Regions from separate parts of the Homo sapiens genome. Here region 2 is linked to region 1. Evidence: fine-mapped expression QTL. A gene starts in region 1. The other region holds a variant in brackets. All regions are shown on one strand. Distances are from middle to middle.

The links. PIP is the estimated chance that this variant, and not a neighbour inherited with it, causes the effect. A credible set is the group of variants that fine-mapping cannot tell apart.
Region 2: its variant is the best candidate, but not a certain one, in a credible set for the expression of IPO8 in transverse colon (GTEx, PIP 0.55).

What each region holds. Positions count from the first base shown.
Region 1 is chr12:30,692,107-30,700,452 of GRCh38, forward strand. IPO8 (importin 8) reads right to left here and starts at 3,763. Exons shown (of 25, transcript NM_006390.4): 1 at 3,458-3,763. The coding sequence starts at 3,541. RefSeq lists a silencer at 3,513-3,562 and an enhancer at 3,653-4,152.
Region 2 is chr12:30,629,669-30,638,014 of GRCh38, forward strand. IPO8 (importin 8) reads right to left here. Exons shown (of 25, transcript NM_006390.4): 22 at 7,314-7,519; 23 at 4,415-4,618; 24 at 2,227-2,343; 25 at 1-1,289. The coding sequence ends at 1,192. Among named protein-coding and RNA genes, the nearest start is that of IPO8, 62 kb to the right of the region's middle. The variant G/C (reference allele first, on the strand shown) is at 3,967.

The sequences.
Region 1 (8,346 bases):
TACTGAAAGATCTTGTCATGAATCAAAGATTAAAACATCTATATAGTTTATTCTAATCATAAAAAAACTGACTTCCGTTATTTGTTTAAAAATCTTATTCCACACATACAAAATAACCTTTACACTTAAATAAATGCTACTTATTTGAAAGTAATATACCTATTGCAGAGACTTTTATGTCAACACTGTTGCCATTGTACAGATTTTGAAACTCCTCTTTTTGCAACTGTTTGCCATTTTAAAAAATTTCAGAAACCTTGTCTTCTTTCAGCATTGATTCATTCTATATTAACTTGGCCAGCTAAAACATTCAGAGATATAGTCAGATATATTTTCATACTACTTTACTCAGAAATAGTTACTCAATTTCTTTGTGCCTCTTCAGGCTTCGAGTTTCTAAAAAATAAATAAGACTAATTTCTCAATGATTTCCTGAGGATATTTTGTATCTGTGAAGTTTTCTGCAAATACGCAGTTTGCTTAACTAAATTCTGCATTTATGAGAACTCATAAAGCAAAAAACTGATGTCTCCTCCCATCCTCTGACTCACTGCTCCGCTGCATTAACCTTTCTAGTCCTCCAGCATGCCAAGTTGAGGGCCTTTTCTGAACCGATATTCCCTCTCAGTCCTCCAGCACGCCAAGTTGAGGGCCTTTTCTGAACTGTTGTTCCTCTCTCTGCTCTTTGCCTGGCCCATTCCTTCACAACATCCAACTCTCTACTCAATGCCATTCTTCAGAGAATGGCTATACATCCCAACACTCTTGCTCGGGCTTTACTCTCCACAGCACTTATGACCTGAAATTATATTAGTTACTTGCCTGTATCCCCAGCTCCATGGAAACAAACTCTTATACCAATATCTGCAACATAGTAACTTAATAAATATTTCTGTGCTATTTACATAAACAAATTATCTTAATAAAGGGTAATGAAAATTGCATGTACACATGCATGGAAAGCAGAGATTCAAAAGCTTGGCAATCAAAGTAAAAACTTATTTCCCTACCGAGGCCATGTGAAGGATAATTTATTAAAAGAGGACACCTTTCTGGATGAATTACTTAAGCAAGGTACCTACCCATTCCTATTCCTCTATGCTGCCTCTAATGGGACTTCTGGTCTATAGAAAATGAGGAAGATGTATAGGGTTCGCTCAATATCCTGAGATAAAACTACAAATACATTTTCCCACAGAAACAATATCACAAATAGCAGTCAGAAAACTACTCACTAGTAACAGAAAAATGCTGGCCTGAAAAAAATATATAGCTCCAAATGAGAATTTATCCATTGGAATATAGGCTGTGGTGCAGAAGCTGCTTATTTTTCTAAACGGCAATTGACAGATCCATCAGTATACCGCAGAAGCTGCTCCCATTCCCTATGCAGAACATACTTGCTGAGGGGAGACCTAGACTAAAGTCGAAGAGGTGGACCATAACCACTTATGGTGATTTACCCACTCATTTATCCAACAAAGTCGGATGTTACAGTGGTGGCAAAGGACAAGCAGGCAAAACCCATCATCATAAGCATGTTTTACTACACTGTTAGGTGACATTATATTTTGTTCTATTTACAGCCAATTCAAAAAACCTTAAAGCATTTCACTATGCTTTATATAAATTATAAATGCTAAATGAGTGGTATAGCAATAAGCTACCTTTAGAAATTGCTGGGGAAACCACGGTCTGTGATGAGGTGGGACACTATGGGGCAGGGCAGAGTGATGATGGAATGGATTTGGATTGAACTACCATCAAGAGTCTACGGCCATACCACCCTGAACGTGCCTGCTTTTGTCTGAAATACCATGGGAAAAAAAATAGGATTGGGTCTTAAATGTCTCCTAGTTCTGCAGGCTTTCTCATATACTTTTTCCACTTCTATAACATCAACTGTACTTATATACTGATGAATCAGAAAGAAATGAAGGTTAGGTGAAGGGCAGGGAAGTGTAACCTGATATCAAAGGAACACCTGGCCTCATTGTGAGAAGGGGGTCATAAACAGGCCAACTCCCCTGTTCATATTAGTAGACTGCAAATTCAGCTCCTGCTTTGTTCTTCCTAACTAACCCCTGGATTACTATTCTTCCAGCCAGCCAACATACAGTACTTTTACTCTGCAAAGCCTGGGACAGGTACTGACTTTAACTTCCCCCTATTCTAAGTGACAGTCCATTTCTTTTTCAGGCACCAGTGCATTATCTTTGGGCATTAGTTCAACCCAACCTCCTCTCCATTGGCAGTGTCTTCACTCTCCCTTTTATCTCTGGGGAATCCTGCATTTATACCTACTCCAAACTCCACCTAGGTTTCCTATTAAAATAATCCCTTTCAAAGATTCCCAACACGCAGCTTTTTAAAGTCAATTCCAACAGAAACATTTACTTAGGACAGTCACACTTCAGTCACACTTCGGGAGGCACAGAATCACCTGGGGGAGCTAGTTAAAATACAACTGGTCCCACCCCCACAGTTTCTGATTCGTTAAGTCTGGACTGAAGCCCCGTAATTTGCATAATTTGTAAGTTCTCAGGTGATGCTGAAGCTCCAGGTCCTGGGCAACGCTTTGAGAACAGCTGATTTTGGAATATTTACATTTTACAAGTCATCACAACCTAAAACAGCTGTTGCTCCATCCCAGTGGTAGCTCTTAATCCCTACTTTTTAGTAAGAGGTCTGTGATTCTTAAGTACCGGTAGGGAAGAAGAAATAAGCTGGAGTTTGGGATCATTAAAATTTTGAAGTGTGGGGGTAACGCTGGAAAGACGTCAAGGCTAATTAGGAAGAACAGGAGACGGAGAAAAGAAAGAAGTCTTACACATTTTAGCATTCATAAGAAATTTCTCCAACACATCTTACTTTGATGTGTCTTAGATAAAGCAGTATCACCATGAAAACTGCCTATTCTTCCCAGAGCACTCTCCCAACAGCACTGCCCAGCGCTCCGCAAAACTCGGCCAATCGGTGTCAAAACAGTCCTGCCAACCCGACAGGAGGAGGCGGTGGGCAGCGTGCTCCACAGCAACACCTAAAAAGGGCTGGGTTTGGAAAAAAGCTGAACTCAGATTTGAACTGTAAGTAAAATTCCCACCTGCTCCCCAAGTCCGCGCACTTAAGGAAAATAAATCACACCCTGAAAACACTAGCACAGGTTGCAAAAACTGCTTCTTGCGGACCAAGTAGGCAGAACAAACTGCCCTGGAGAAGGGAGACGACACGAAAAGGTGCAAAGGTGGCCAACAGGTGCGCGAGCTGTTCGGCAAAGATCCTGGGAGCCCTGCTCCACTGGACCGGGGGGCAGCGGGGTCGGAGAGCGGGACCAGCCGTGAGGCGTCAGCCCCAGCCCGGTGGGGGTGAGGACGAGGGGCGCCGGGGAGAGGGAGCCCGGCCAGCCGGCAGGGGCGCCCCTTCGGCGGAAGAGGGTCGCCGAAGACCCTCTCCTCACCTGGTTGAGCTCGTTCTCGGCTGCAATCCGCAACTTCGGGTCGATGGTGCCCTTCAGCGCCTGGATGATCCGGTTGAGGTCCATCTCCCCGGGTGGGGGCTCCGCGGCCCCCGGAACAGTAGGCCGGACTGCAGCTTTAGTTTTCTTTTGACCCTCTCAGCCTCCTCTTCCGCGACCCCTGGATTACCTCACACCCCACCCCCCGCCACCGTCGCCACCTGCGGCCACTTGCTGCGCCACTCTGACTCCGCGCCCCCTGTCCTCCCTTTTTCCCCCCCACAACTCGCTCTCCATTCACCGTTTTACGACAGCCGGTGGGAGGCGGGAGAAGGAAGAAGAGGAAGCAGAGCTTCCTTTACGGCGGCCTCTTCCCCCGGGCGTGATGCTATGACCGCCTCCCGTCGGCGGCCGCCATGCTGCTGTACGGAAAACGGCCTAGGCTTCTTTCCCGGAAAGGAACCCGCGCTCCCGAACTCAGGCAGGCGGCCGCTATGCTTCCGTACGGTAAACAGCCTCCCGCCTCTTCCCAGGTGAGGAAACTTGAGCTGGCCGGGAGTCTGCTTACAGCTGCTTCCAAATTAAGCATATCTGGATGGTGTGACACTTTTTGTTAGTCCGAGAACTGTATGGGCATCGCAACTGGGCCTGTTCCAAGATAGACTTGTTGGGACCTTCAAATCATGTACCTTACAGGAGGACAGGGTTCCTCCGTGTGTGGGAGTCATCGTTCATTCATTCATTCGCTTTCACTGAACATTTGTTAAACATATATTTTTGAACCAGAGTACTAGGATTTTTAGGTACCACATTATAACAAGATGAATTCCATGCAAGTTAATGTGAAGGAATTCACAACCTGATAGATGAGACAAATATAAACAAAAAAAATTTACAGTGTAGAAATGATAGGGGAGTGCTGGGAAGGGAAGAGCGTGGTCCCTTTAAATGATAGGGATGGGCGAAGTGAAGTGCTGGGTAGAGGAGTGTGTGGTCCCTTGCTAGGGCTCCACGCCCACCGACCTAGGTGAGGACTGACACTCCTGCCTTCCAGCCCAAATGTTGCATTTCCCAAGACCACCCTGGCCTGCCACTCCCCCATACTGTGCCTATGAAAACCCCAGACCCTAGCAGGCAGGTACACAGGCAGCCAGACGTCCAGAGGAGCATAAGGGTGGAAGAAGAGGAGCTCGCTGGCACATCCGCAGGCCATTCACGGGCAGAACGATGCGGAGGTTGGCCTGGGCAGTCGGAAAAGAGCCCGGGCCGCCAAGCGGCCTAACTCCAGAGGAAAACCATTTCCCTTCTGGGTCCCTCATCTGCTGAGGGCTACTTCCACTCAATAAAACTTTGCACTCATTCTCCAAGCCCACGTGTGATCCAATTCTTCTGGTACACCAAGGCAAGAACCCAGGATACAGAAAGCTCGCTGTCTGTGCGACAAGGTAGAGGGTCTAATTGAGCTGGTTAACACAAGCCCCCTAAAGGCAAACTGAAAGAGCATCCTGTAACACACACCCACTGGGGCTTCAGGAGCTGTAAACATTCACCCCCAGACTCTGTCAAGGGGTCGGAGCCCCACAGCCTGCCGGTCTGTATGCTTCTCTAGAGGTCTGAGCAGCGGGGCACTGAAGAAGCGAGCCACACCCCCAATGCACGCCCTGTGAGGGGGACAAGGGAACCTCTCCCATTTCAGAAAGACAAAGGTCACAGAAACTGAAAACTACATCCCTGAGAGTTTTATGAAAAATTTTCAGACCTTCTCAAAAATGTAGTGAAAGGTAAGCAGAAAAGTTATACTGTTTCTATCCACTGTGGCCATATCTGGCGCCACAATTTCAATGGCATGAAAATATCAAGGAGCTGGTTCTTCCTGAGGTTAACCCAGAAGAGAGGGTTCTAATTACATTTAATAAAGATGATGATGTGGGCAAAACACAGCTGAGGGGCTGTGATCTTTTCAGGAGCAGATAATTAAGATAGATTGGGTCAATTAACTGAGTTCAATTGAGAGAGTAGAAAACATGTGGCTGAAAACTTGGTGGCTTGAAAGCTTCCCCCTCAGTTGGATGCAAAAGTGCTTCACAGTGAATTTAACATGTCTAATTGCTTCCAGTATTGCCCCTCTTTAATCCATTATTCACACTATCATCAGAAGAAAGTTTCTGAAAAGTTAATATTACTATGTCTCTTCCTTGATTTCTCATCAATTTCAAAATAAAATATAAACTTAGCACTCCAGAGTCTTATGAACACTATTTCACTAAACCACTCTCTTGGACATCATGAATGTCTAAAAAATTTTTTATCTCTGAAAATCTTAACTCCAATATCCTCTTTTATAATTAGAACTAATTCTTCCATTTCTCTCTTCCTCAAAAATTCTAAGCTTGTTTTCCAATTCAATCACTACTTCAGTTCTTAGTCTATCCATTACTCACTACACATCATTCTCTGCTATTAAACCCCCAATTCAGCTTCTTAACTCTAGCCTTGACCCACTGTGCAAACTGATATCAGATGTATTCTTTAATCAGATGCAACCATCCTATTCCTATTCCTTGCCTTTAATCAGCAACATCTTCCATTCCCTCAGTGGCGTTTCAACTCTCAGGACTCTTCTCAAGCTCCCTACGCCTTCTCACCAAACCCTGCAAAGATGAGCAAAACCCTCAGGCTCAACTCAACAACAAATTCATCTCCGCTTATCCCTCTTCATCTCCTCTGCAGTCTGAACCCCATTCTCTCCCATCTCCTCCAGGACCCTGTTCCATAAATCTCTCCTCTCTTAAATACATTTTTTCATTAAAATAAATTTTAGTCATTATAATGTGCTCATTGTTGACAATGTGTAAGTTTTTTTCGTACTTTTTCAGCCTCTTTTCCTCCACTGATTCAACCTCAGCCTAAAAACATTTCCCCCAGCAAAAAAATAATCTTCAGTAATGCTAATTATTGCTCATTCTTTTCCACTTCATTCCAAAGAATGGTCTTCATTCACTGTGTCAGCTTACTTCCCATTCATGCTTCAACCACCTATCCCCAGGCTTCTCCCCCTCATTTCCCACTAAAACTGCCAAGCAAAGATGAACACCGACCTCTTTAGGGGGTATACCAACTGCAAGAGACATTTTTAGTTCTCAACTTAAATTTTCTCTCTCTCGCGCGCGCGCGCGCGCGCGTGTGTGTGTGTGTGTGTGTGTGTGTGTGTGTGTGTATGTATAGAGAGAGAGAGAGATTGAGAGATTGGGGGAGGGCGTCTCACTTCCATTGCCTAGGTTGTAGTGCAGAGGCATGATCACTGCTCACTGCAGCCTCGACCTCCTGGGCTCAGGTAATTCTCCCACTTCAGCCTCCCAAGTAGCCGGGACTACAGGCACATGCCACCACGCCCAGCTTTATTTTTAGTAGAGACAGGGTTTTACCACATTGCTCAGGCTGGTCTCAAACTGCTAGGCACAAGCAATCTGGCAGCCTCAGCCTCCCAAATTAGGATTACAGGTGTGAGCCACCACACCCAGCCTCTAATATCCGGTATCATATTTCATACTATTTTTAAATTATCTCTTTTCTTGTTTTCTCTTACAGAATACATTCCTAACCCTTTGATTACTCAATCGCCCAAGTCTTCGACGCTTCTCAGGACTCTGTCCTCAGCCATCTTCTCTTTCTCATCCACCCATTTTTCAGTAATTTCATCCACTTACATAACTTTAACCATCAACTAAACAAAGATAGCTTACAAAACTAGTTGTAAGATCTCTTCCCTTAAACTAAATATATCCAAATGCCTATACATTTCTACCAATATCTATCCCTCAAATCACTTAAGGCACATGTCTAAAACTGAACTCAGCACTGAAGATGATAGATTGGAGAAGGGAGAGACTTAAGGTAGTTATTCCAATAACATAAAAGGAGAGATCAAAAACGGTGACACCACCAAACGCTGGTGAGGATGTACAGAAACTGGATCACTTATATGTTGGTGGTAACATGTACAGTGATACAGCCTTTCTGAAAACAATTGGGCAGTTTCTTTAAAAAACTGAATATGCAACTACCATATGACACAGCAATTGCACTCCAGAGCATTGGTCCTAGACAAATGAAGACTTGTGCTCATAAAAAAAACCTTGTGAGTGTATATGCAGCTTTATTCATCATAACCCAAATCTGGAAACAATCCAGATATCCTTCAGTGGGTGAATGGTTAAATAAACATGGTACATCTATACCATGGGATACTACTGAGCAACAAAAAAAAAGATACATGTAGCAACCTTGATGAATCTTCTGAGAATTACGCTGAGGGAAAGAAGCCAATCCCAAAGGTTGCATCTTGTCAAATGCCATTTATATAACATTCTTAAAATTTAAAAAATATAGAAGGATCCATGGTTGCTAAGGGTTAAAGTGGAGGTGGTGGCAAGGGGGAAGTGGGTGTGACTGTAGAAGGGCAATATGAGGAATTCTGATGATGGAAATGTTCGTTTCTTGACTGTATCAATGTCCATATCCCAGTTGTGATGTTGTACTATAGTTTTACAAGATGTTACTGTTGAAGGAAACTGGAAAAATCGTACATAGGATCTATCTGTATCATTTCTTACAACTTCATGTGAATCTACAATTATATCAAAATAAAAATTTTACCCAAAGTACGTAATTAAAAAGAGCTGATGTTCCCATGAAAACTTTGTATGCTTTGGACAGACTCACTGAAGACAAGTTACTAAAATACAATGCTATCAAATTAGGGGTGGCCAAGAAAACAGGAAAGATCAGAAAAAGCCATGAGCTCTCGGATTCTGCTCTCAGATTTCTTGGCAAGCGTTTTAAAATGATTTTCCCTAAACTATAATTTATGTTCAACTTACATATGACTCATT
Region 2 (8,346 bases), 62 kb before region 1:
CAGAAAAACACTGTAATCTCCATATGCAATATTTCCTATAGGCAACCTAAAAGTGCAGCTGCCCCAACCCTTGAAAAGTTTGAGAAGTCAAACTGAGCTATAATAAAGACACAAACAAATTAGGTAGGAGAAAATTCAAATAGGTGAGAAAGCAAGAAGTTAGATTTGTTTGGGTCTTTTTCCTAGATTAAAAAAAAATATTATAAAATGCTTTGGACCCTAGTCCAACATAGCTGGAATGATAAGTTATTTAAAATACAAGTCCCCATCCAGAAAGACAGTGTGCTTACGTAGCACCTGTCTCTTAGAAGTTCAATGTGCTTTAGGTATGATTATCAATTAATTGCATAATTACATTATTCAGAATATACTCAGACTTACTGTTAACTCCAGTGACTAAAGAGCCCCTGCCACTTGCTGCCAAGAAAATGAGTCCTGAACTTACAAGGTTAGGAGTGAAACTGATATGTGTATTTGTTGACCCCAAAAGAAATACCACCCCTTTTCAAGGCAGAAAAAAATGAGAGAAGAGGGAGTAAGACACTTCTTTAAAAAGCCACAAAACATCTTATGAAAAACCACAGCCAGTGCATATTTTATAATACAACCCCTGAAAAAAGCCCCCCAGCAGCAGGGTGAGCAGAGGGAGCCGTGAAGATTTTGAAACCAGAGTGACTTGCAGTAACTGCCTAACAATAAATTCACAGAGTAAAATGCAGAATAGTTGACATATAACCAAGGTTTATGTTGTATCTAGAAATATGTTTTATGCTTTAAAAAAAATTGCAATGCACTCCAAAAATTTTTTTCTGATAATTCATGTACAACAGAAGGCACTGTTATCCGCATAAATCCATTGATTCTGCATGGCAAAAACCTGAGACGTGCAAGTCTATCCAATCCTCTAAAACAACCTTGGGCATTCAGCCTTTGGAACATATGGGTTGTCCTTTTCCGTCCAATGATTGTTTTTCTTTCATTTCATACTTACAGTAGCTGTTTAAAATATATATTTCAGGGTGACAAAGGTCAAAGGGGAAAGAGTAGATAAAAGTGCTGCCTAATGCCAGATGGTAACTGGCACAGCAGGAGGGCCCTAAAAGCAGCCCCTCATTTCATCCCCTTGACCCTCACACTCCTCTTGTGAAATAAAATGCAGCGATGACATTTGGTCAGCTGATGTTCTTTCCTTCAGTTGTTGCTGGGCACAGTCCCAAAATTAAATGCGGAGAGGACTCCTTTGTTTTCAAAGGTGAAGCCTCCCTGTTGTTCAATCTTCTTCTTTGCCTCTAGCATTTTTCAAAAGAAAAGGGGAGAAGAAAAAAAAAGAATGCTTAAGGTGACAAAGTTGGAGATGACTCAAAGGAGCCAGATTCTTTATATGCTTAGAACTGTGAAAGAATGTGACTGGTAGTATTAGTTATCCTGCCAAAGAATAACTAAGAATAACAGACCTATGTCAATAAGGTGGTATGTTCACTACCATCGGAAAATCTGCAAAAAACGAGTGAAAAGAAAACACGTCTCAGAGGTGGATTCTACTTCACTGTCTCTACTGCTGAAAGGGGGCCCAGACTTCTCATATCAGGAAGGCTGACTGAGAATCTGCACAGAACTGAAAATCTAAGTCCATGCAGAAGAGCCAGCATTCTAAACTCTAGATGTCTAGTTTGCCATGTTTCCTACTAAAATTTTTTTGTAACTACAAAATCTTTTCCAATGACAATCTACAAGTAACTACAATAATCAACACAGAGTAATTCCTCCAGCTTAAAAACTGAAAATCAACAACAAGAAACAATGTCAAATAAAGCCCAACAATGAGAAATAGAGAGCATTCCATTTCCAGGAATACAAGCTCCTTGCAAGAATTCGTCAAGTCCCTTTGGCCCACGGTTGAAATGTTTAGGGGAGTGATCCAACTGATTAAGTCTCCCTCGGCAAGACTTATCCCAACCCTTACTTTGTACCTTTGCCTCCAACATAGGATAAGAATGTGAATGAGAACACCACTAGGAAATACATATTAATGTGCAGGTTTTTGCAAAGCTAAGACATCATGAGTGATTAAAACAATCATACAATAATGACAATTCCTTATTATCTTAAAGGGTAAGTCTCTAACAATTTCAAAAACAGTGTTTAGGTGCCACCTGGCTCATCAAATAAGGCTGTCTGTTGGCACTCTGACACATGCACTCCACTCTGGAGGTTACTCTGGCTGACCTGCCACCGTCCGTCGGTGCTCTGCCAGTGTGTACACCTCCTGCAGTGCTGTCCTCTGATCCTCGCTGAGTGGTGCCATCAGCAGCTGGTACCAGGCTGCATCTCGACTCTGCACAGCTGTTGCATTTTGGGAGGAAAAGACAGGAGGGTACAGCGACTATTAATTTACAGAACAAGTAGTAACATGATCAAATTACAAAGAAATTATCCCAGACAGTAAGAGACAAAGAGTACAGTACTACAACACACACAAGGTAATGAAACTTACGCCAACAAAGGATTATTTCTGAGTACCCACTTAGTACCCAGCTATGTGGGAAATCAAAGGAAGGTTAGGACATTGCAAATCTCTAGTCTGCCTAGTTCTCTGTCTCCTTTGCTGTCTTCTATGGATGTTCTCTAAAATCCAGAACACCAGTACTCACTTGTTACCATTTTCCTCTGGAATTTTCATACTACCTGCAGCTTTAGTATTGCTACCACCCCAAGGATTCAAATCTGTACCTCTAGGAAAAACCTTCCCCTAAGCCTCCTGGACTGTTCCATTTGAATAGCTCATCTCAAACTCAACACAACTAAAACCAAATTTAACAATTTCCTCCCAAACCTTCTATCTCTCCATTTATCTCACCAGTTCTATTAGTCTCCCAGTCCACTACTGTGCATCCTTAACATCCCTGAGCATGCCCTCTCCACACCCAAAGCTCTGCTTCTTTCTTAATGTCTTTCATCTGTATGCTGCTTTCCATCAAATGTCACCCTCCCCATTCCAGGTCTCTATACATCTAAATTAATAAAGTGAACCTCTAACACTTGGCTCCCACATCTAGTCCTTTCCAGTTTTTTCTGCACATCATCCATCACCGGGTAACTCCCCTGAAGTGAATTACCACATCTAAAAGGTCACCGCCTCAGAACACAACTTTCAACGCTATTCCAATGGGCAATGGGATGGACCACCTCAGTCCAGAATTCAAGGCCACTATAGCCCAGCCCAACTGCGTTCCTTCACAGTCTTTAAGCAGTGGCCCCTACATGCTGGTTTAAAGTTGCTTGTCACTTGAGAAGCATCTTTAAAAATACATCTCCTGAGATCCTACTCAAGACCTAAAAGCCTCCTTGGTGATTATGACACACCCATGTCTGGAACTACACTAGGCCACATCCTCCATATTTCCATCTCCACGTTTATGCTGTTACGTTTCCCATGCTTTGGAATATAGTTTCCTGTGTTCTCTGCCTCCAATTCCTCTGAATTTCAATAAGAACATCTAGGTAGTTTTTTCTTCATTAATGTTATTTGTAGCAACACTAAAAAATGCCAATATATTAAGCTAATATTGCCTTATTAGTAAAAACATTTACATGTAAGGATGTTCATTTTAATAACCCTCATAATGGTAAAAACATTGGAAACAATCTTAAATGTCCCACAGTGGAACTAAATTACAATGTAACTATGGAAATACTATCTAACCATAAAACAAATAATCTATATTAATGAGATTTAAAATAATTTATTTGATTAATAATTTTCTAAATATCCTCATTGGCTTGTTTTTATTCTGTAAATTTTCCATTTCCATTTTCTACTAGGTTACTGGTCTTATGTATCTGAGGATGGCCTCTGTACACTGTGTACATTATGCCTATTATGCATATGTGGCAAATATTTTCTCCCCCCGAATCATTTATGAGTCCTGTAACTGTAATTATACTGTTCTTTGTTGTATAAAATTG[G/C]CAAATTACTTACAAAGTAAAAAGTCACCCTCTTACGGCAGCAATTTCATTCTAGGGATTGTGAATAACTAGTAGGTTGTTAGCCACAATTTTTAAGCAATGTATGCCTGAAACACTTCATTCTTTGCTATAAAAATGCTTGCCCATTTATGCCTAAAGGATGAACAATATACACAGATACTCCACATATTACTTTTGCAAGGATAACATACAGGCTCACCCTGCTACTTCTCAATGATGAAAGCTGCTAGGATTGGGTGATAGGTGTTTCATTATTTTAATTTCTATCATTTCATGTATGTATGTTTGGGGATTTCTATCATAAGGAATAAACAAAAAAATTTTTAAAAGAACCTAGACCAATCTTGGGCAAATATCAAAACAGGAAGAAATGAAGAAAGAGTTTAGAAAAAAAAATATCAGAAGATGTGGGGAAGTAAAGACATACTTATCAGAGCTTGTGTAAAAAACTGATATTCATCCACACTATTGTCAAGGTCAAGTGGAGTACTGAACCCCTCAAGCGCGGTTTCTTCCAATACTTCTTCATCCCAGTCATCATCTTCCTCCTCCTCATCTTCACCTCTTCCATTATTTGACTGCATTGCTTGAGCAGTTACATTTGTCTCCTCTTCATCACTTGAAATCTCCTCTGTGAACCCATTAATTATTTAAAAGGAATCAAAACACATAAGGACAAAATATAAAACTTCACGACAAAAACCAAAGACTATAAAACTACACTCTGGAAAGGAAAAAATCTTCCACAAAATTTTAATAAAAATAAATCTTATCCCTGGTCTAAAGAGGAGAGTCAAAAAATAAAAATAAAAAATAAAATAAATAAACCTTATCTTTACTGTAGAGTTTGCTAAGTTGAGAATGTCCTTATCCTCCTCACTGAAAACAAGTTCCCTAAACCTGTTATCCAGATGAACATTACTACTGTTAGGCTATGCAAGTTCATTAATACAAGAATATTATTCAATTGCAGATTTCAAAATTACCTTTGTTTAAAAAAAAAGTGACTGTACGGTCAGTGCATGTGTTTTAAACAATGACTTCCTATTGAGAATTCAGTCCTCTTAATTAACTGAGTTGATTATAAAGTGCTTAGAAATGCCCAAATGAGATCATTTCTGCTAGTAGAAACAGTAAAAATACAGATCCAGCCATCCCACTTCAGGATATATATCTAAAATATTTTAAATCAATACGTAGAACAGATGTCAGCAGCCCTGTGTTCATCGCAGCATTATTCACAATAGCCAAGTTACAGAATCAACCTAAGTGTCCATCAACAACGGATGAATAAAGAAAATGTGGATTCTTTAAAATGAAACACTATTCAGCTTTTAAAAAGGTAATTCTGTCAATTCCAACAACACTGATGAACTTGGACATTATGATAAGTGAAATAAGCCAGGCACAGAAAGACACATACTGCCTGTTCTCACTTATACATAGAATCTAAAACAATCAAACTCATAGAAGTAGAGAATAGAATGGTGGTTACCAGAGGCTAGAGGTGGTGGGAATATGGGAATGTTGGTAAAAGGGTACAAAGTCTCAGGAAGAATTAGGTTTTTGTTTTGTTTTGTTTTGTTTTGGTATCTATTGTACAGCATGGTGAATACAGTTAATAGTATATGTACATTTCAAAATTGGCAAGATTGTAAATTTCAAATGTTCCCACCATTAAAAAGGGTATTTAAGGTGATGGATATATTAGTTTGATTTAATCATTCCGCATTATATTCACAAATCATAACATCACTTTGTACTCCATAAATATATAATTTGCTAATTTATAATAAAAAGAAATAGCAAAAATGTAAAGAAAAATAGCTACATGTCGCTTGAAAAGTTAAAAACTTGAACTACATTATGTATCACCATGGATTCTGTATCTATTTTCAGTGTCAATCTGTTCCTAGCAGTTAGATTGTAACTGAAATACTGGAACAGGAAGGCAGTAAATGCAGAACAAAAATCAAGATAAGAGAGAAATCCTGGAGTAAACCCAAACCAGGTAATATTAACCTAAAACTAGTTCTATTAGACACACCATATTGAAGCAGGTAGATTGAACTAGGTAGTTTTAGGAATAAGGCACTTAACCAGAGTTTGGACCAAATACACGAAAAAATGCATGGCAAATTATAACTATTAATACAAAAAGACTGAGAAATACCTCCACTAGTTAATCATTCCATACTTTAGTAGGAAGTACAAGAAAGTGTGGGATATTACCAGAAAATTTTCCCTCAAGCCATACAGTATAAGCCAATAAAGAGTTGCCAAAACAAGAAATTAGAGATCATAACATACTGGAAAAAATAAAAGAATTCTACAACTGTTGACACACAGTTAGCTAAAAACAAAACAAAACAAAACAAAAATCACACATGCAACACTTCTAATAAAGAAGCATTTCTTCAAAAGACCTACACAGATTTCAGAAAAACAAATTAGAAGCTGTATTTTGTGCTGTGGAGGGGAGAAAAAGGGTAGTTTATAATCTCTGGTATATGAACAAACTGGGATGATGCCAGTTAAAAGTGTTTTAAATCTATCCATGCTAAAATCACAGAATTTAGCATCAAAAATAGAGCTGTATGTTTACCAGGAAGAGTTCTGATTTTTCTCAGCTAACAAAGTATCTGTTTTTAACCAGGAGAGGAAAAAATCCACCTGGAATAGGAGAATGCTACTTCCTAGTCTCTAGCAAGTAGCTCCGCAATCTCATCATTAAACAAAACAAAGGTCTAATATTCAACTCTAACAATCTTATTCTGATTCTCAAGTATATCCACTTCATTTATGTACTTTACCTTAATTTATATTTAAATCACAAATATGGACGTCTCTCAAATGTAATTTTTGCTAATGAGTCACCTAAGAACCATTCCAGAAAAAGAAAAAAAAGACACTCTCTACTAATCTGTGGTACTAACACTTCAGCTCTTAATGTAATGATTCATTTAACTCATGGCTACTGCCTTGATGAGGCTGTTAGCACAAACAAGAAAGTTAGATACTAGATTGCTAACTTACAGTCAAGACCATTTGATTGTTATAAATGTGTTTCCTAATGTGTAACAGCATCTATTAGGCTCCATAAAAAAAACCGCTGAGTATATTAGGTGTCAGAAGGTGCATAAATCTAAATTTATATAGCATGATACAATTAATAGCAAGTCAACCAAGCCCAAAATATTTGTTATATGTGTAGCAGGCCGAAGAATGTAAATCTGTTTAATGTCTCCATATAGACTAGTATTCATATAAAATGCATACACAAATCAAAATCAATTGTAACATTAATTTCAATTAGAAGACTTTACCATTTTCTTCCATATCAGCTTTCTCTGCTTTTGAACGATCTTCCCGGTTTACCAGTTGTCTAGTAGCACAGACCTGCTTTAGGCCAAGGAAAAGGAAAAGAATTGAGGGAACAATCTGTCCCACCACAGCATCTACTGCAGGAGGTCGATTTTGCAATTCCAAAAGGATACTCAGTCCTATTATACACATCTTCCGGTCATGATGCCTGCAAATTTTGAAGAAAAAAAAAATGTAGACATGAGAAGTGGAATAAAGAACAAATTCTGGAGAAACTACAAAAAGAAATGTCCAAGGCATACTCTAAGGTTCATCTGTTGGTATCATACAGAGACATTCCCTGTTTTGTACTGTATGAAATGCTATGTAAATCAAATTTTGTAAACCAATTATTTTCAAAGACCTATTGGGAGTCTGCAATTAACATGGTGAATCTTGCTGTAATATCAATTTATGATTAATATAAATGTTATATATGGGCCTCGGCATAAGGAGTTTTAATAAAGCAGAAATACCTATATTTGACAGCATAAAAGTCCTATACAATGGTTGGGGGGAATGAAGAGTTTCTTAGACTCTTCCAACATTAGATTGATCTACAAGGTTTCTCAGCACACATAATCTACCCAAACCCTAAGAGGTGAAAGATGTTTCAAAAACTCAGCATCTAGTAAGATAGTAAGCTGAACTTAATTTAAGCAGTCTACTAAACTCCTGTGCTATAAAATAGCATAAGAAAAATATAAGGACAAGGAAAATTTTATTCAGAAAGAAAAAAAGTTTGACCAGTAAACATTAGACATTTTTCTACTAAATGCTTCCTCTAAGTTGCTTAAAACTAAAAAATTAAGAACTAAAAGATTACATTGGCAAAACATTCTTAAAATTGTGTGAATAAAAAATTCACTTGCAGCGATTCAATGTGTTTAAAGTGCGAATAATATAACAAATCCAATAATGAATATTCTACAGGCTTCTGTTATTCTTCATTATTTGCATTCCTTGATTGATTCAAGTCACTAATGCCCAACTAGT